Linked DNA regions of Homo sapiens: regions 1, 3 and 4 are each linked to region 2. Evidence: fine-mapped expression QTL. A gene starts in region 2. Each other region holds a variant in brackets. All regions are shown on one strand. Distances are between the middles of the regions.

Region 1 (5,153 bases), 50 kb before region 2:
TAGAATTACATGTTGACTAGATTTACATTATAGTTATTTTGAACATAAAAGATGTCATTCATTAAATATAAGGCTATAATTTGATGTTACTAAATGCCCAGATAGTTAATATGATTTCACAGAAGCACACTTAATGGTCACATTCTCTATGTCAGGCCTCTGAGCCCAAACCCAAGCCAAGCCATCGCATCCCCTGTGACTTGCACGTATATGCCCAGATGGCCTGAAGTAACTGAAGAATCACAAAAGAAGTGAAAATGCCCTGCCCCACCTTAACTGATGACATTCCACCACAAAAGAAGTGAAAATGGCCGGTCCTTGCCTTAAATGATGACATTACCTTGTGAAAGTCCTTTTCCTGGCTCATCCTGGCTCAAAAAGCTCCCCCACTGAGTACCTTGCGACCCCCACTCCTGCCCTCCAGAGAACAAACCCCCTTTGACTGTAATTTTCCTTTACCTGCCCAAATCTTATAAAACGGCCCCACCCCATCTCCCTTCGCTGACTCTCTTTTCGGACTCAGCCCGCCTGCACCCAGGTGAAATAAACAGCCTTGTTGCTCACACAAAGCCTGTTTGGTGGTCTCTTCACACGGACGCGCATGAAACTCTAAATAATAACTTGAGACAGATTCTCACAACAGATGGGCATAGCTCCCCAGGGGCATGTTAGAACCACTTGGGAGAACATTTAAAAAAGACAAACACAGACAATTAACAACAACAAGGTTCATTGCACAGGTTTACTTACAGATTTTCTTATAAATTTTTACAAGAAACAGATATTTTATAGATATCTACTTTTATAGACAGTTACTTATAGATTTTCTCCCACCTTGCCACCTGAAACAGCAAGTCCAGCCTCTCCTCTTCCATTTCCTCCTCAGCCTACTCAACATGACTATGAGGATAAAAACCTTTATGATGATCCACTTCTATTTAATGAAAAATATATTTTCTCTTCCTTATGACTTTCTTAATAACATTACTTATCTAGCTTACTCTACTGTAAGAATTACAGAATAATACATGTGACATGAAAAATATGTGTTAATTGACTGTTTCTGTTATCAGTAAGGCATCCAGTCAACAGTAGGTTATTACTACTTAAGTTTTAGTGGAGTCCAAAGTTATACATATATTTTTTAACAACATGAGGGGTCAGTATCTCTAACTCACACATGCTTAAGGGTAAACTGTACTTGTATCTCCCACTCCCGTTCCTATTCTCATTTGCCTCTCAGCTCTGCCTTATCTGACAGAGAATCATAGTCTTAAGGTGCTACTGTTATTGATGGTAATGTATCCATCCTTCTAGCAAACTCAGTTGGGAAAAATTGAGAATTCTTGGCATAAGATGATTAGACAATATAAAATGTTTTGAGTGCACACTCTAGACCCATGACTCTCTGTCCTCTTCTTTTATATTTATCTTTTCTGAAAACACTTTCATCACCATCTAACATAAATCTGTTTTACATCTCTTGCCACTAAAATTGAAGTTCTCTGAGAATAAGGAATGTTTCTCTCTTATTCACTGCTACATGAACCAATGCCTGGCACAGAGGCATCCAAATATTTATGAAATTAATGACTTAAATATGTAATCATTTACAAACTGTACACACACCCACACTTTCTCTTTACATCTCACTTTACAGATAATCTTTATGTAGATTATGCAAATATCTATATGCCAACACACTCAAGAATATTTAAGATTTTCCACTTTTACTAAATAGCAATAACTAACTCAAAATTATACAATGAACAATTAAAATTGAGAATGTGAAGAACACTGAGGGAAAAAACACATTTTATATGATGTTATTGTAGGGCAAGTCCCCAAAAGATCTTGGCAACCCAGCTCTTCCTCGCTTTCTCACTTGTAAATCTCAGAATAACTGTAGAATGATGTGCTGGAAATGCAAGAAATATGAAGGAATTGCCAGTAAAGCCAAGCTCTGTTCCCATAGCTCCTAGAACAGGATGTCTTGCAATGCTTTAGCACAGCTCATCAAGTTGCTCCTAGGTATAAAACCCAGGGCAGAGCAGGCTTTCAGAGTTCCT[T/C]AGCTGCGGTGCAACATGAATGACGTGCACGTGAGACTCCATCCATCCTGGACAGCTATCCTAAGCTTTGGGGGATGAGCTTGCCATGAATCCTTAGGTGTCTATTGTCCCTTGCTGCCTGTCTGTGAGTAATAAAGTTGCTTCCCTAAACTTATTGTGTGTTCTGTCTCACCAGACTCATGCCAGTGGATTGATACTGGTACACAGTATTGGCAAGGTGTTTACAGTCCTCCCCTGGGATTGATACCAGTGCACAGTGAACCTGCATCATAAAATTATCAAATATATAAAACAAAATTAAGATACTGAAATAAGCTACTTATCTTCTATCACCAGTACTAAGCACAGTGCCCAAATTACAGGCATTTGTGGAAGATTATTATAAAGGCCACAAATGAGTAACTCCTTCCCATGTCCAGACTCCTTTGCAATGTGACCTTGCTACTTCTCACCAGGAAATTGAGTCTATTTTTCCATTCTTTTGAATCTGGCTGGCCTTGTGACTTGCTTTGACTAACACAAGGTGGCAGAAGTATCACTGTATGAGTTCTTGGGCATAGGGCTTAAGAGGTATTGCAAGTTCTACTCTTTTCTTTTTGGGACCCTAAGCCATCATGATGTGAAGAATCATAGTCTAACTCTTGGAAGATGAAAGGCCATGTAGAAAAAGACAAGAAACTCCAGCTATCAGCCTGAACTGCCACACAGGTCTGTCAGAATAATTTGAATCCCCAAGCTCTAATCTAGTACTGAATGACCCTCACTGCATGAACAATACCAGCAGAAAAAGTGCCCCGACTGTCAACCCACAGAATAAAGAGAAACAGTAAGTCAATATTTCCTTAAGCCACTAAATTTTGAGAAGATTTGTTACAAAGCAATTCAGACACAGACACAGCATCTAATAAATGTGCATGGAGGAAAGAAAGAAGGAAGAGATGACAGATTCCTCTAACAAATTTCTAATTCAAAGAATACCTAGTTTCCTCATAAATAGTAGTAACTTAAGAGATTTTCATCCTCTACAATCATATATTACTGCTTTCAGAAGTTATAAGATAGCTTCAATCAGCACTAAGAAACTTAAATTTTGGATTCCCCATGTAAGCAGCAAAGCTATCCCCAGGTAAGCAGCAAAGCTATGGTATCTAAGCAACTCTAGGAAAAAAAAAAAAAACATATTTGTTTTTAAAATTTTTTATTTTTAATTATTATGGATACAGAAAAGTTGCACATATTTATGGGGTATATGTTATAATTTGATACAAACATACAAAATGTAATGATCAAATCAGGGTATTTGGGATATCTATCACCTCAAACATTTTATTATTTCTTTGTGTTAGGAACATTCCAATTTTTGAAGTCAGGGAGACAGAGACTAGAATGATGGTAGTTACCAGAAGATGGAAAAACTAGTGGGGATGTGGGGATTAAGAGGGGATGGTTAATGGGTATAAAAATACAGTTAGGAAGAATAACATCTAGTGTTCAGCAGCACAATCGAGTGACTATGGTTAATAATTTATTGTTTTAGGGTACATGTGCACAATGTGCAGGTTAGTTACATATGTGCAGGTTAGTGTATACATGTGCCATGCTGGTGCGCTGCACCCACTAACTCGTCATCTAGCATTAGGTATATCTCCCAATGCTATCCCTCCCCCCTCCCCCCAAAGTATAATAATAATAAATGAAAAAAAGAACAGAAAAAAATGTAATAAAACCAAAAAAATAATTTATTGTATGTTTCAAAACAAGGAAAAATAATTTTATAAGCATTGTATCCTTATTAAACAGCCACCTAGTTATGACCTCCTCTCTCAGAACTAGAATGTCTCATCTTTCTCTTTCTTCAGTGGACAGATATCAGAGGGCCTCAGAATCATATGCTATATATTCCCAACCAATGTGCCAGATCTAACGAAGAAAGATCTCTAGGAGTGACAGCACTTTATTATTTAAAAGAACACTCCAATTGGTGTTGGGGTAGAGAATGAGACTGATAATGGAAAACAAAATAATCTTCAACTTTATTTTTAAAGTTTTATTACTTCAATTAAAAAATAAACTTGAAAAGATAAAATGTTAGCTGTCAATTCTGGGTAGCATATACAAAAAGTTTATTATTTTTAGGCTTTTTGTATTAGAAAATTTTCTGAAGAAAAAATAAAGCAGAAGGAACGAGAATGATAACAGAAGAAAAAGGCACCTGTGGGAAGGTGAACATTTGAATACCCAGGACAGATACCACCAAATGCTAGTGAAGCTGGTAAAGATATTTAGCTAGAAATCTATAAAGCTTGCTAAAGGCTAAATGTGGGCTAACGTGAGAGTGTGAAGCCCCTGGTAGCTCCAGACATAGCAAGGCTGAAACCCTCTTGCACAGGGAAGACTGGGGAAGGTCCTGAGAAAGCTTCCACTCTAATGGTGACAGGTAGAGAGGAAAGAAAAATCACTGCTGAAATCCACTTCAGACCTATCTCCCCTATAGAACCAAAGCCTTAATCTTCAGAGGCAAGGGCAACAAAATTGTAGCTATATAGTGTACTGGTGGAAGCCCACTGAAGACGGGAGAAATGGAACAGATGAAAGTCTTAGTCTGAAGGAAGGACGGGAATACCTGCCAGGCCCAACATTCTGAGAGAGGATCAGAAACCTTGAGGCCCAAATTTACAGTATGCCTAGAAAGGAAACTTAATTGGAACATCAGAGAATATCCCCTTCCTTAGCTGCCCCCTCACCTTCACCTCAAGGCCAATCTAACAAGGGTTGAGTAAAGATAACGCTGAAATACAGGTGGGAAAGCTATAAGAAACACATTGTCTTTGGGGAGCTGTACAAAGGGAAGATCCAAATCTAAGTGGGGAGACCTAAAGCCAAGTGGAACACAAACGTGAAACCCAACCCAACTCCTGACCAGAACACCTCAATCCTGCATACATGAAAGGCATGGCCTAAACTAAAGGCAGGGTCAAGGCTCCTACACAAAATGTTGAGCTTTTAATAACAACGAAAATCACAAGATGTCCAAGAAGTCAATGGAACAAAAGTCTGAAGAGACAAATCAATCAACAATTTCAA
Region 2 (5,153 bases):
AAAAGTGGGTGAAGGATATGAACAGACACTTCTCAAAAGAAGACATTTATGCAACCAACAGACACATGAAAAAATTCTCATCATCACTGGCCATCAGAGAAATGCAAATCAAAACCACAATGAGATACCATCTCACACCAGTTAGAAGGGCGATCATTAAAAAGTCAGGAAACAACAGGTGCTGGAGAGGATGTGGAGAAATAGGGACACTTTTACACTGTTGGTGGGACTGTAAACTAGTTCAACCATTGTGGAAGACATTGTGGCGATTCCTCAAGGATGTAGGACTAGAAATACCATTTGACCCAGCCATCCCATTACTGGGTATATACCCAAAGGATTATAAATCATGCTGCTATAAAGACACATGCACACACATGTTTATTGCGGCACTATTCACAATAGCAAAGACTTGGAACCAACCCAAATGTCCGTCAATGATAGACTGGATTAAGAAAATGTGGCACATATACACCACGGAATACTATGCAGCCATAAAAAAGGATGAGTTCATGTCCTTTGTAGGGACATGCATGCAGCTGGAAACCATCATTCTCAGCAAACTATCACAAGGATAGAAAACCAAACACCTCATGTTCTCACTCATAGGTGGGAACTGAACAATGAGAATACTTGGACACACAATGGGGAACATCACACACCAGGGCCTGTTGTGGGGTTGGGGGAGCGGGGGATAGCATTAGGAGATACACCTAATGTAAATGATGAGTTAATGGGTGCAGCACACCAACATGGCACATGTATATCTATGTACCTGCACGTTGTGCACATGTACCCTAGAACTTAAAGTATAATAATAAAAAAAATAGCTGGGACTTAATTAAACTAAACAGCTTTTGCACGGCAAAAGGAATAGTCAGCAGAGTAAACAGACAACCCACAAAACGGGAGAAAATCTTCACAATCTATACATCTGAAAAAGGATTAATATCCAGAATCTACAAGGAACTCAAATCAGCAGGAAAAAAAAAACAGTCCCATCAAAAAGTGGGCTAAGGACATGAATAGACAATTCTCAAAAGATATATAAATGGCTAACATGAAAAAATGCTCAACATACTAATGATCAGGGAAACACAAATCAAAACCACAATGCGATACCACCTTACTCCTGCAAGAATGGCCATAATAAAAAAATAAAAATAAATAATAGATGTTGGCGTGGATGCAGCGAACAGGGAACACTTCTACACTGCTGGTGGGAATGTAAACTAGTATAACCACTATGGAAAACAGTGTGGGGAGTCCTCAAAGTACTAAGAGTAGATCTACCATTTGATCCAGCAATCCCACTACTAGGTATCTACCCAGAGGAAAAGAAGTCATGAAAAAGATAGTTGCACAAGTATGTTTATAGCAGCACAATTCACAAGTGCAAAAATGTGGAACCAATCCAAATACCCATCAATCAACGAGTGGATAAACTGTGGCATATATATGATGGAACACTACTCAGCCATAAAAAGGAATCAATTAATGGCATTCACAGCAACCTGGATGAGATTAGAGACTATTATTCTAAGTGAAGTAAGTCAGAAATGGAAAACCAAATATAGTATGTTCTCACTGATATGTGGGAACTAAGCTATGAGGATGCAAAGGCATAAGATTGACACAATGGACTTCGGGGACTCGGGGGAAAGGTTGAGAAGGGAGTGAGGGATAAAAGACTACAAATTGGGTGCAGTGTATATACTGATGGGGTGATGGGTGTACCAAAATCTCAGAAATCACCACTAAAGAACTTACTCATGTAACCAAACACCACCTGTTCCCCAATAAACTATAGAAATGAAAAAAAAAAAGAACTTTTAGCATCAAATACATGAACTTATGTGGAGTCATGGAGTCTCTTTTTAGGGACACACACTGTTGCTGTGGTGAACAGCCATTAAGTCATTGGTGTAAAACTTCATTTTTGCTAAGAGAAAGAACTTTCTAATTTTACTCAACTAGAATACTAAAGGGCAAAATGCAATAGCTACAAGTTTTGTTCTGCAGAGTAAATGACAGGTCATGAACTAATTCCGTTGGAAGAGATACAGGAAAAATATTACCTTGCAGGAAGCTGCCCTCCCCATAGTAAGCCTAGGAGCTGATGGTATGATGTCATCATTACGAAACTAGGTACTTTAAGCACTGTCTGAACAGAACTGCCTACCCCAGTAGAAGCTCTTGCGTTAAGTGCCACGCGTAAATGCTAATACATCCCAACGTATTAAAGCAGGGCAGGGAAGCTTTAAAAATCGTAGGTAAAGTAAGACTGAGGGGGAAAGGAACTGCAAGTGAGTGCTGCACGGGAACCGAGAAGCCGCCCCGGGTCGGGAAGGAAGGAGGTGGTGATGCTCAGGGCCAGAGCGGGGGCGTCTGGAGAACCCGGGTGGGAGCCAGACACCCGCTGCGAGCACGAAGAAAGCGCGGCTGAGGGTGGCAGCGCGCCCACACCCGCCCGGACGAGGGCCCGGCCCGCACCCACCTTGCCTCCAGCAGCAGCGGGGTCTCGGGCCACTTCGCGGCCAAGTGGGCAGTCACCGACTTGGACGCGGCGACCGTCCCGGAGCCGAGCTGCGAAAGCCACAGCGCTGTGGAGCCTAGTAGCAGCCGCACCACGTTCGTGGCTTTCGCTGGCGCCATGGCACGGAGAGAAAAGCGCGAGTCCCTCGGACCCGGTACCCACAGTCTGTGGCCGCCACGCTTCGGCCGGCTCTTCCCGCTGCGCGGCTGCCCACTTCCGGTGGGAGGAGCTCGAGTCCGTTACTGGGTGCCGGGTCCAGACCGGCGCATGCGTGTCCCGCTCCGGCGCGGTTTAGTGGGTGCGGCCTGGAGAGCCCACGCCAGCCGGACACTGGGCCACGTCGGAGCCGCCGGGGCGGCGCCGGGTTGCTGAGCGGCGTCACAGATGCTCCCGCGGGTCCGCTCCCGCGGGTCCATTCCCAGGACTTTGGGTTCTCGGACAGAGGCCTTAGGACACGGGGCGGGAAGCTGGCTCTCCAGACCGAACTAGGGCTCTGGAGTTGCCAAAATCTGGAAGCAAAGTCAGGACCACTTGCATATTGTCCACCTTTTACATAGGAGGAAAATAAGTCCAGTTAAAGTTGAAGTCCCCACCTCACGCAGTTCTCAAGTGTTACTACAGGTTGGAATCACCTGGGAGAGCTTTTATAAGGCCGCCGCCAAGGCCACGCCCCGTACCTGAGAATCTCGGGAGGGGGGGTGAGATGCGGCATCAGTAGTATTAGTTAAAATCCGCAGGCCGGGCGCGGTGGCTCACGCCTGTAATCCCAGCACTTTGGGAGGCCGAGGCGGGCGGATCACGAGGTCAGGAGATCGAGACCATCCTGGCTAAAACGGTGAAACCCCGTCTCTACTAAAAATACAAAAAATTAGCCGGGCGTAGTGGCGGGCGCCTGTAGTCCCAGCTACTTGGGAGGCTGAGGCAGGAGAATGGCGTGAACCCAGGAGGCGGAGCTTGCAGTGAGCCGAGATCCCGCCACTGCACTCCAGCCTGGGCAACAGAGCGAGACTCCGTCTCAAAAAAAAAAAAAAAAAAAAAATCCGCAGGTGATTCCAGTGTCCAATCATGTTAGGAAACCCGTGACTTACGGGTGGCTCTCAAACTTTAACCACTTGCTTGTTAAAACACTGCAGAGTGGTGGGCCTCCCCACAGTGTTTCGGATTCAGTAGAGCCCTTGCGGGGGCCGAGAACTTGCATTTTATTTCTCCCAAGTTCGCAGATAATACTAGTGGCTAGAAATCACACTGGAGCCTTTTCCATTGGAAGGTGTGGTCCAGGGTAGGCTTCAGCTGTGAGCTCAATGGAAATGCAGAAGCTCAGGCCCCGCCCCAGACCTAATGAATCAAGATCTCCAATTTAACGGGAACCACAGGTGATTCCTATGCACAGGAAAGGTGGAGAAGAGTGATTTAGAGGATTACATTTAAAAGTGCACAGAAAAGTGCCAATAAGCCTGAGCATGGTGGCTCACGCCTGTAGTCCCAGCACTTTGGAAGGTCGAGGCGGGAAGGTAGCTTAAGCCGAGGAGGTAGAGGCTGCAGAAAACGGTGATTGCGCCACTGCCCTCCAACCTGGGCGAAAGAGGGAGACCGTGTCTCAAAAAAACAAACAAACAAAAGGCCAATACGTGATAGTTGTTTTGTCAGAGTAAAATATATGGTAAAAGAGTTTAGCGGATGCACGGATTCATTGCTTTTTTTCTCTCCTGTTACTCCTTTGCCCTGCAGGGAAGCTGGATCTCTTGAAGTTGCGGAAACATAGTCATTCCCTTTTTTCGTTTCATTTGCTTAGTCAGTACCCTTCCTTAGAAAACCCTATTCCGCTAAGCAGTTCCACGAATTTCCAGAATAATTTCTCACTTCCAAAGTTTAGCCTTCATTTCCTGATTTATCCTACTTGGTATGATCTATCCTTACTTTAAATTTCCTCTTTATTGTAACTGCCATATAGCACTTAAGTTCTCACTTTAATACTTGAGTACGCTACTTACTTATTTCTCCTGTGAGAGATAGTATATTCCCCCAGAACTCATGCCTTGTTCATCTTTGGCATCCCGTGCAGTACCTAGCACAATACTTCACATTCACATGTTATTTGGGGACTCCATGAAGATTGAAGAACCCTTGCTTTATGGAAAGAATGTAGAAAGCTAAGGCAAATGCACTTCATTTCTATCCATAGTGTATACGAGAAAAATACATTACGAATCTTTCACAATTATTTGCTTTAATTAACTCCCCATTTCCACTCATATTTAGACCGAAATTTTTATTGAGATTGTGGGATTAAGGAAATAAAATATTGACAGTGAATGTCTTACATGTCAGCATATCCAATGGACTGCAAATCTTTAAGAAATAATTGGCCATATAAAAGGCACATTAAATAGACTATTAAAGGACACTAATAAAATGTATATTAGTAAAAATTTCACTATATGTGAGTTCAGAATAGTGAGAATGCTCATTTCTCTTTTAAAGAGAATAAAATTAATCTAATCTAGGCCATCTATGAATATATTTGTTATACATTTTATCTTACATGGTGTTCTCCTAGAAATTTTAATTTGAAACATTCCTCAGAATGATGATCCCCAAGCTTGTTTCCCCATCTACA
Region 3 (5,153 bases), 95 kb before region 2:
CCCTAAGTTTTCAGTTTTCAAAGCGCTCAAACAGGGCTGCTGCATATTATTGTTCATTTTTTGTGCATACTTCTTCATTTTAAGATAAAGTCTATAAAGTGATATTTCTTTTGAACTTTAGGAAATGTTTAAACAGATGCAGTAAATGTAACTAAGTAATATGATGTCACAGTTACAAGCATGAGTTCAAATAACCTTTTAGTGTCTCAGTTTCTTCATCTGTATAATGGGGATGCTATCAATACCTAATAGGGTCGCTGTGCAAATAAAATGAGATAATTCATTTTAAATGCTGAACATAGTATCTGGCACTCTGCTCAATAAATTTAAGCCACTGTTGTTAGTAAAAGGCAATCACAAAGCAGAGCAGGAAATAAAATTTAACGACAAGCTAAAACAATCTTGATAAAGAAGTATAAAGTTGGAGAACTCACACCTCTTGATTTCAAAACTGACTATAAAGCTACAGTAATCAAAACAATGTGGTACTAGAATAAGGACAGACATACAGATCAGTGGAATAGACTAGACAGCCCAGAAATAAATCTGCATTTATGATCAACTGATATCTGACAAGGGTGCCAAGCAAAGGTAACCAAAAAAAGGTGGAATTCATAAAAATTAAAATTTTGTTGTACATCAAAGGACACTACTAACAGTCAAAAGGCAACCTACAGAATGGGAATAAATATTTGCAAATCATATATCTGATAAGGAATTAATATCCAGAATATATAAAGGACTCCTACAACTCAACAAAAAACAAAGAACCCAATTTAAAATGGGCAAAGGACTTGAATAGATATTCCTCTAGAGAAGATATACAAATGGCCAACAGGTATTATGAATCAATGCTCAACATCACTAGTCATTAAGGAAATGTAATGAGAACCACAATGAGATACCAGTTCACACTCATTAGGATGGCAATTGCCACAAAGCAAAACATGCCAAAACCAGAAAATAACAAGAATTGGTGAGGATGTGGAGAAATGGGAACACTTGTGAACTGACAGTGGTAATGACAAATGATGTAACAGCTGTGAAAAACAGTTTGGCAGTTTGTCAAAAAAGTTAGACACAGAAATACCATATGATTCAGCAATTCTACTTCTAGGTATATACCCACAAGAACTGAAAGCAGAGATTCACACAGGTACTTGTACATCAAAGTTCATAGCACAGCATTATTCACAATAGCCAAAAGTTAGCAGCAGTGTAAATGTCCAACAGATGAATGGATAAACAAACTGTGGTATATACATTCAATGAAATATTATTCAGTCTTAAAAAGGAACAAAATTCTGATACATGCTACAACATGGATGAACCCTGAAAATATTATGCTAAGTGAAATTAGCCAGACACAAAAGAATATTGTATAATTCCACTTATATGAAATATCAATAGGCAAATTAATAAAGACAGAAAGTAGATAGAGCTTACCAGAGTCTTCAGGAAGAAGGGTATGGGGATTTAATGTTTAATGTGAACAGAGCTTCGTTCGGGATAATGAAAAAGTTCTGAAAATAAATGGTGGTGATGGTTGTACAACACTGTGAATGTACTTAATGCCACTGAATGGTTAAAAGAGCAAATTTTATGCCATGTATATCTAACCTGAATAAAAACTACTTTGTGACAATCTCGTGGGAACACAACCTTTATGGAGGGTGGGTTCCAAAACCAGCTATACTCCTTATGGACTGGAATTCCTGGGGTTTGGGGCCTGTGGTAGTCTTGACAAATTAGCAGTCTTATCAGTGCTTATGAAGAGATAGTCTGCTGAAAGCAGCAGGGTGGCAGAGAAGGGAGGCACACCGTCTGAGACTGATATCTGAAAGCTTGCCAGAATCTGAGAGACAACTCAGGGAAATGGGGCTTTGCAGAGTGTGGGGACAATGGGAGCAGCATAAGGGCTTAAAAGTCCAACTGCTCCTCCACACACAGAGTGACTGTCCTTCACTGCCAACCTTAGAAGCAAGCTAGGATATTATTTTACAAAGAGAATAGGAAGGTTTCTTTATAGGTCTGTTTACTATGTCTAGAAGAGCCTTGACAATTACTGCACTAATTTTCTGTGTGACTCTCTCTCAGCATTCTTTTCTACAAAAGCTAAAAAGCACAAATTCTTAAATATCAGATACAAGTATTAAGATTACTTACAAGGTCATTCCTTTTTCTGACATAACATTTTTAGAAAAGACATCTGCTATTGAGATTAAAGACAAAGTAAAAGTAAAATCTAGCCAATGAAAGAATACGGTCTAAAGAGTGGTAGAAAACAGTAACAAACATCTATATAACAAGTCACTTCGTGTTCTAGAAAACACAAATGATAACTACTTAGTAATTTGTTATTTATCCTGAATCTGAAGTTTCTGATGTTCAGGGAATATGGCGTTTCTTTCGGGCTGCTATAGTCCTTTGGCTCTGAGAAGGCAGAATTTTTTTTTTTTTTAAGACAGAGTCTTGCTCTGTCGCCCAGGCTGGAATGCAGTGGCACGATCTTGGCTCACTGCAAGCTCCGCCTCCTAGGTTCATGCCATTCTCCTGCCTCAGCCTCCCGAGTAGCTGGGACTACAGACGCCCGCCACCATGCCCGGCTAATTTTTTGTACTTTTAGTAGAGACGGGGTTTCACCGTGTTAGCCTGGATGGTCTCCATCTCTCGACCTCATGATCCACCCGCCTAGGCCTCCCAAAGTGCTAGGATTACAGGCGTAAGCCTCCACGCCTGGCCAAAGGCAGGTAGTTTATGAGCAGGAAGGTTTTTCAAGTAAGGCAAAACTAACTATAATAACTGAGATGCTTCAGAGAGAATCCCTTACATTTTTATATAAAACAAT[C/T]AGCAAAAATTTCAGAGAGGATTTTTCCCCTTAAGATCTTTTTTTTTTTTTTTTTTAAGAAGGGGCTTCAAGATGGCTGAATAGATGTATCTGCTACTTGCCTCTTCCATGGAAAGGAACCAATATAGTAAGCAGATAATCACACTTCGAATAGGTCGTCTAAGGGAGCACACTGGAATTCACCAGAGAAGTGACAGGAGTACCCGAAAGCAAGAAAGGAGAGGGAAATAAGGCAGACTGCTAGGCTGGGATTGGCTGGAAGCCTAGAGAGGTTCCCTAATGCAAGGAAAGTGTAAGTGAGAGACCCTCAGCAGTCCACGTTTCCACTACGGACTCCTACCAACCTAACCATGGAAAAGCCCCTTCACCCTTATGGGCTTCTGAGACTAACAGAGGGAGCTACCTGGAGATTGCACAATGCCACTGATCCAGAGAGGGAGCTCATGCCCAGTCCCACAAACCCCTGAGTCCTAAGCCACTGCAGTATGGCATCATTTTGAGAGCCCAGCTCCCACAGACTGTGTCCTGCCCTGGGGCCTAACAGCCCCCGCATCTCCATATCTCTGGGGTCCCACTGACATTCCCTGCTAGGGCCAAGGCAGAACCACTGGCAGTCACACTGCCTCCCCAGCAGAGGGACAATCACACATTTCCATGCACCTGAGGACAAATTCCATTTGCTGCAAACTGTGTGTGTGTGTTTTGGGGTGGGGGGACATAGGATGAGCAAAGCATGCCCCAGCCACCTGCCTCCAATTGCTCCTGTTGAAAGTGACTTCACCCTCTCCAGTAGCAGAACAGCAGCACAGCTGCTGCTGCTGCCTCTACCTGAGCATCCACCTATGGCCGGTGGATCATCCCGCTCCCCTGCTGCCCACCAACCATAGCCAGAGCCTGAATGTACCAACATGGGGCCTAAGAACCATCTTGCCTGGTTCTATCACCCCCAGTACCTAAGCATGCTGTCCAGGGACGTGGGGATCACCCAGCACAATCCATTACCATTGGCATCTGAGCACACCTCCCAGTGTCATGCCCACCCAACCTGCCACTACCATCACCTCAGGGCCTGGGCAATGGCTGACCCAGCCCATCACAGCTACTGCCAACACTGGCATGGACCCTTAGGTCCTAGAGAATTGTCCCGCCACTTACTGCCATTGCCCGTGCCACAACCACTGCTCAGGTGCTCAAGAACCTACCTACCACTGTCATTCCCAGCACCCAAGCAAGTCATCTAGAGGCCCAAGAATCAACCTCCCTGCACCTGCTAACACTGGTGCTAGTGTACACCACCCTGGGGGCCAAGGCTCAACCCACCATCGCCACCCATAGGGCCCTAAGTCTGGCCCAACTGGTGTCCCACATTTCAGCAAAACTTCATCACAGCCTCCACTAGCAACTGTGCTACAAGCCACCTAGCAAACAGAGACACCACTGATGCTGTTTACAGATGAAGAAATCATACAGAGATTACCCTACTGCACACATTGAGAATCAATGCCAAAAAGTGTACTATGCAACTAACACCATAAATGGTCAGGAAAAAGTCTTCCCCTAACAATGGAAATTTTTAAAAAATGGAATAAGTAACTGTTACACCAGATGCACAGATGTCAACGTAAGGACACAGGAACATAAGCAATCTCCAAAGGAACACAATAATTCTCCAGCAACAGATCCCAATCTAAAAGACATTTATGAAATCCCAGAAAAACAATTCAAAATATTGAAATTAAGCTCAGTGAGCTATAAGAGAATACTTTAAAACAATCCAAAAATATCAGAAAAACAATTCAGGAAATAAGTGAGAAATTTACCAGAACCAAATAGAAAATTCATTGAATGACATGTAAAATGTATTGAAAAGCTTCAGCAGTGGACTAAATCAAGTAGAATCAAGAATCTCAGAATTTTAAGACAAGACTTTTGAAATATCCCAGTCAAATAAAAATACATACAAAAAAGAATAAGCAAAGCCTATGTGACATATGAGACACCATAAAGTGACCAAATATTTGAATTTTGCTGTCCCAGAAGATTAAAAAAAAAGTATTAGAAAACCTATTTAATGAAATAACAGAAAAAGACTTCCCAAGTCTAATGAGATTTAGATATCCAAATACAGGAGGCACAGAGATTCCCAAATAGATACAATTCCAAAAGGTTTTGCCCATGGCAAATTATAGTCAAACTGTCAAAATTTAAAGAGAAAGAGAGATTTCTATAAACAGCAAGTGAAAAGCATCTAGTGGGAACACCCATCAGATTAACAGCAGATTTCTCCACAGAAACTTTACAGGCC
Region 4 (5,153 bases), 160 kb before region 2:
TAAACACCAAAATCAAAGTGACAATATAAAAAATTAGCAAATTATTTCCATTAGAAAGTTTTACTTTGAAACATAAATCATAAATCATGATTTGAAACATAAATCATAAATCGTGATTTGAAACATAAATCATGATGCTTCCAAATACCATTTCAATCTGAATTCAATTTTGAAAGCAATGGTCTATATTTTTAAAAATCTTTTAATTTCAATTTTCTTTCACCTTCATCTATAAATTGTACTCTACACTATATAGACATGAATTACTTTATAAGAAAGCCATAAAATAGCAAAACCCAAGAGAAAAATCACATAAAAATCACATACTTACTATAATAATACCAACCAGTCTTCTTTTAACTGATACTGTATAAATGGTTAGGAGCCTAGCAAGGTCACCTATATTAACTTTAAACCAGTAACTACAAAGTTAGAAGCTGCCAAATTGCCACATACCTAATTTCTCAGAATGGCTCTCCCATCACAACCACTACTGACTCTACTACCATGAGCACTTTCTGAGGAAATTAGTACATAACAATCATTCTAACACCACGTACACAAAACCCTACTGTAGACTGACATAATCCTATGTACAAAACAATTATATTTAATGATAATCAGAAAACACGTCAACCAGATTATTTTTTTCTTGGTAAAAAGACCAGAATGTAATGGCTGTAGCCAGATTTTCTCACTTCCCCTTCACCTGCTCCTACAGTTCATCTTTTCTAAAAATTACTGAAGCATAGTTCTTGAATCTTTCTATCCCATTTTCTCATATCAAAGGTGACTAACTGGGATTTTGGCATCTCAACTAAATAAATATCATGTTTCACCTTAAATATAAAACACGGGCTCTTAAAAACACAAAAATGGGCACTATAATACTAAAAGTACTCATATAAACATTTCATTGTCTTAAGACGTGATATAATTTTTAAAGCAACTTTGAAAGCACATTCAATGTTACATTTCTGAACAATGAATCAGCAGTCTTGGAAAACAGTTGAATCTTATCTATACTACCTCTAGCGACAGGGGCAGTTTTGTTAGTAACATTAGAATAAGGAAATAAAATCTTAAAAGTATTGTTTTAAGGGGTTAACTACATTGGCTATCTTTACTGATTAAATTTACCAGAAAACTGGCTGTATTTTGCTTACATTAAGCACAGCATCAAACAGGAGAAACCTAATGTTTCTGTGTCTTGGTTCTATTTAAAGCTGAAAATTTGTGGAATAAAGTAACTTAAATAGCATAAAATCACATAATGTCCAAGTTGGGTAAAAGAACAATAAACTTGAAAATTATGTTGCTTAAATCTTCTTCATAACATTTGAGAAATGTGATTTTTCAGTTACATAGAATAATTGCTGTAACAGAAATGCATTACTTCATTTGACAGGTCATGAAAATTGCAGAAAACTCTGTCAGATTTTCATCCACATACTGAGCTAAAAATGTCTCTCTACTCACAGAAGTTTGATCAACTAGTTTTGATTTTATGCTAACTTTTAGCTAGTGTAACACAAATTAAGTCTACAAATGCCCATTATTTTTCATGATGCCCTTCAAATATTGAGAGAAAATAGCAGTTAATATTTACTGAAAATTTACTCTGTGTTTGGGTTCCTTCTATGTGCTTTAAATATAGGAGCATATTTAATCACCCCAACAATCCTGTAAGACAGATTATTATCATTCTCATTGTCCAAATGAAGAAATCAGGTCTCACAGTGTAATGTAATTAATGGTGCAACTGGAATTTGAATCCAGATCTGACTATAAAACAAAAAAAAGACCCTGCTTTTGTTCCCTACTCCCTGCTACCCCATGTCTTTCAGCAAACTGTGAATATGTAGTGTAATACAAATAAATATTATTATAACAATGGCATTATTTGTGGCATTAATATTAAATATGTCAATTTTAAATTATTCAGTGTTTTTAAGAAACTGTGTGATCATCATTGTACCCTAGTTGTTGATCATTTATAAACAATTTTAACTTTTCATATGTTCCAATTCTAATGGAAACATTTGAACAGGCTCAGAATGAAGATTTATACTAAAATATCATACTTATTTCAAGCATTAAACTATCTGATTCCAAATTTTTATAACATCTGCCACATTGCTGTGATTATTATGCTTAACAGCATTACTTTCAGAGTGATAAGCTAAGTATTACATTATCGCTCATAAACCACAGACTTATTTTCCAATATACTTTTCTATTAAAACCACAGTTATACAAATAAAAGGATAATTGAAATTACATTTTTCCATTAGTCAACAGAAAAAATCAACATAATTTGACTTAATATCTATCTCCAGCCCCAATCCTTCCTCTGTACTACACTCATATTCAATCACCTTCTTAACAAGTCTTTTTGGAGGTCCAAACTGAATTCTCTTTCCTTCTTCTTATACTGCTCCTGACAACCTCACTCATCCTGCAGCCTTCCTCACCTTGATCCACAGTAACTCCACTCTGCCAGTAACTTAGTTCTCTCACATCTCACACCAAAGTCCCTGGACAATTCCTGTCCATTCTTCACATAAAATACATCCCATATCCACTTCTTACTACCACCACTAGAACCATTCTGGTCCAAGCCACCATCATCTCTCATCTGGACTACTGCATTATCTCCCAACTGGCTCCCTGACCCCCTATTGTATATTCCCAATGTAACAGCCTCTAGTGATCCAAATAAAACATAAGCTAGATGATGCCAATCTCCTGCCCAGAACTATGCACTTCCCAACTCATTCAGAGTAAAGTGGGAGTCCTTAAACTTCCTATAAAACCCAATATGATCTGGCCCCCAGCTACTTCTCTGGCTTCTCTCCTGCCTGCTCTCTTCCTACCTGCTATTCTTAGAATAGCAGACATGATTCACAGGATTCACAGACATGAACTCACCTCACGTCCTTTGCATTCACTGTACTCTGTCTAGAACAATCCTCTTCCAGATATTTGAC[A/G]TGGCTTCCTCCTTCACCTTCTTTGGTTCTTTGCCCATATGACACTGCTATGAATGTGCTATGGTTTGAATGTCTTTGTCCTCTCCAAAATTTATGTTAAAACTGAATCCCCAATGCAACAGTGTTGGGAGCTGGGGCCTAATGGGAGGTGTTTAGGTCATGAGGGCTGTGCCTCAAAATGGACTAATGCCACTATAAAAAGGCTTTCAGGAGTGGGTTTGCTCTCTCCTGCCATGTAGGAACATAGCACTCATCCCCTTTTTGCCCCACTGCCTTCTGCCGTATGAGGATGCAGCAAGAAAGCTCCCATCAGATGCCAGTGCCTTGATCTTGGACTTCCCAGCCTCCAGAAGTATGAGAGAATAAATTTCTGTTCTTTAATAGATTTCTGAGATTATATAGTCTCAGGTATTTTGTTACAGCAGCACAAAACAGATTAAGACAAAACGTGTCCCTCAAAACCCATGTGTTGAAACTTAGTGGCCAGTGCGATAGCACTGAGAGGTGTGGCCTTTGGGAGATGATTAAGCCACGAGGGCTCTGCCCTCATGAATGGAATTTGTATCCTTATAATAAAAGAGTTCAAGACTGAAGGGAGCACTCTGTTGCCCTTCTACTTTCCACCATGTAAAAACAGAGCAACAAGGAGCCATCCTGGAAGCAGAGAGCAGCCCTCACCAGACATCCATGGCAGCACGTCAGCCTTACATTTCCAAGCATCCAGAAGTATAAGAAATAAATTTATGTTCTTTATAAATTAGCCAGTCTGTGGCATATTTTTATAGCAGCATAAACATACTTAAGATAGATGCCTTATCAGTAAGGGTGCTGTTTGTTGTCTCTCTCTATCCATCAAAATATTAGCCCCATGAAAACGTAGTTGTTTACTGCTGTGCCTTCAGAATCTAGAAGAATGTTTGGTTCACAGTAGGTGTAAGATTAATATCTTAATATTTTTATCAATTTTAAGGAAAGTCAGGACAAAACATAGTTTTATGTTTATGAGAAATAAGTTGAACATAACTGTATCTAGTATTTGTTATCATTAATGTCAATAACACTATATGAATTATATCAAAATGACAAGACATAGGATAGCTTTTCCCTAGTATATAACTAAAAGGTAAGGCACTAGATAAAACAGGTGCCATTGTTTCCCTCTTTATCCCTTAAAATGCTTGACATGGTCAAAGACAGCCAAAAGCTTTAGAACTGTTTTTAAAAGCTGTATTTCCTCCCAAAGTAACTTTTAAAGTGAAAAAGCAATGCCATTTACAGAGCTCTACATATCTCACTACCAAAATTCACCAATACTTTTTACAATAAATGGCAGCTTTTGACATGTGTAAAATAGCACTGTACATAGATGAACCTGAATCTAATATGCAGGTGAACAGAATTCAAAAGTAAGTGAAAAACAAAACATTAAGAGTGCATTAGAACTTTGAAGATGATTGAGGGATATATAATTTGAAAATTCAAGCCACAGATACGTGAAAAACACTGCATTTGTTGATTTCTTAATAAACCTAAGCACCAGATTCAGTTTTTTACTTAAACAATTTGTATGAAATAAGACTATCATATTAAAAATATTAGTATATAGATATCATCCACTTATTTTGTATGTGTCTACAAAGACTGCAATCAGAAAAACATTTATATTAACAGAAAAATCATGATGTAAAATTATATATAGTAGGATTATAAGGATGTATTCTAAAAAACCAAAAATGGCTATCTATGTATGGTAGAAAAAAGGGCTGAAAGGAAAAACAATAAGCTATTAAGTTTTATTAGGGTGGTTGGAGAGTAAGAGATTTTCTTCCTACAGCCTTGTAAATATTTTATTAATAAATACTACATGGCAATTTATACTACTTGATACTTCAAAACTGAAAATAGTATCTAATGCCATTTAACATACACAACTGTAGGAACAAGAAGAAAGATGTCATAACCTACTTGCTACACCTACTACAACAGTGGTTCTAATGACAATGTTTTGAAGATGTGCATTAAGTTGTTCCTTCTAATACTTACATTAGAACAAAATAAAAGCAAGACACATAAAGAACATTCTTCCTTACCCACATCATCATTCTCATTAAATGGGGGAAAGAATGAAGGAATGGGAAGTGTGTCATGACCCCATTTTATTTA

Evidence for each region.
Region 1: its variant is fine-mapped to the expression of UGGT2 in lung (TOPMed, PIP 0.92).
Region 3: its variant is fine-mapped to the expression of UGGT2 in blood mononuclear cells (TOPMed, PIP 0.93). The same link has a PIP of 0.9 or more in tibial artery.
Region 4: its variant is fine-mapped to the expression of UGGT2 in whole blood (TOPMed, PIP above 0.99). The same link has a PIP of 0.9 or more in esophagus mucosa, ileum, pancreas, spleen, subcutaneous fat and sun-exposed skin.

Annotation. Positions count from the first base shown.
Region 1 is chr13:96,000,945-96,006,097 of GRCh38, forward strand. The region is part of intron 5 of UGGT2 (UDP-glucose glycoprotein glucosyltransferase 2); the gene reads right to left. Among named protein-coding and RNA genes, the nearest start is that of UGGT2, 50 kb to the right of the region's middle. The variant T/C (reference allele first, on the strand shown) is at 2,070.
Region 2 is chr13:96,050,658-96,055,810 of GRCh38, forward strand. It overlaps UGGT2 (UDP-glucose glycoprotein glucosyltransferase 2), which reads right to left and starts at 2,744. Exons shown (of 39, transcript NM_020121.4): 1 at 2,498-2,744. The coding sequence starts at 2,655. RefSeq lists an enhancer at 2,506-3,005.
Region 3 is chr13:95,955,709-95,960,861 of GRCh38, forward strand. The region is part of intron 12 of UGGT2 (UDP-glucose glycoprotein glucosyltransferase 2); the gene reads right to left. Among named protein-coding and RNA genes, the nearest start is that of UGGT2, 95 kb to the right of the region's middle. RefSeq lists enhancers at 3,385-3,886, 3,887-4,386. The variant C/T (reference allele first, on the strand shown) is at 2,849.
Region 4 is chr13:95,895,510-95,900,662 of GRCh38, forward strand. All of the region lies in intron 22 of UGGT2 (UDP-glucose glycoprotein glucosyltransferase 2), which reads right to left. Among named protein-coding and RNA genes, the nearest start is that of UGGT2, 160 kb to the right of the region's middle. The variant A/G (reference allele first, on the strand shown) is at 2,991.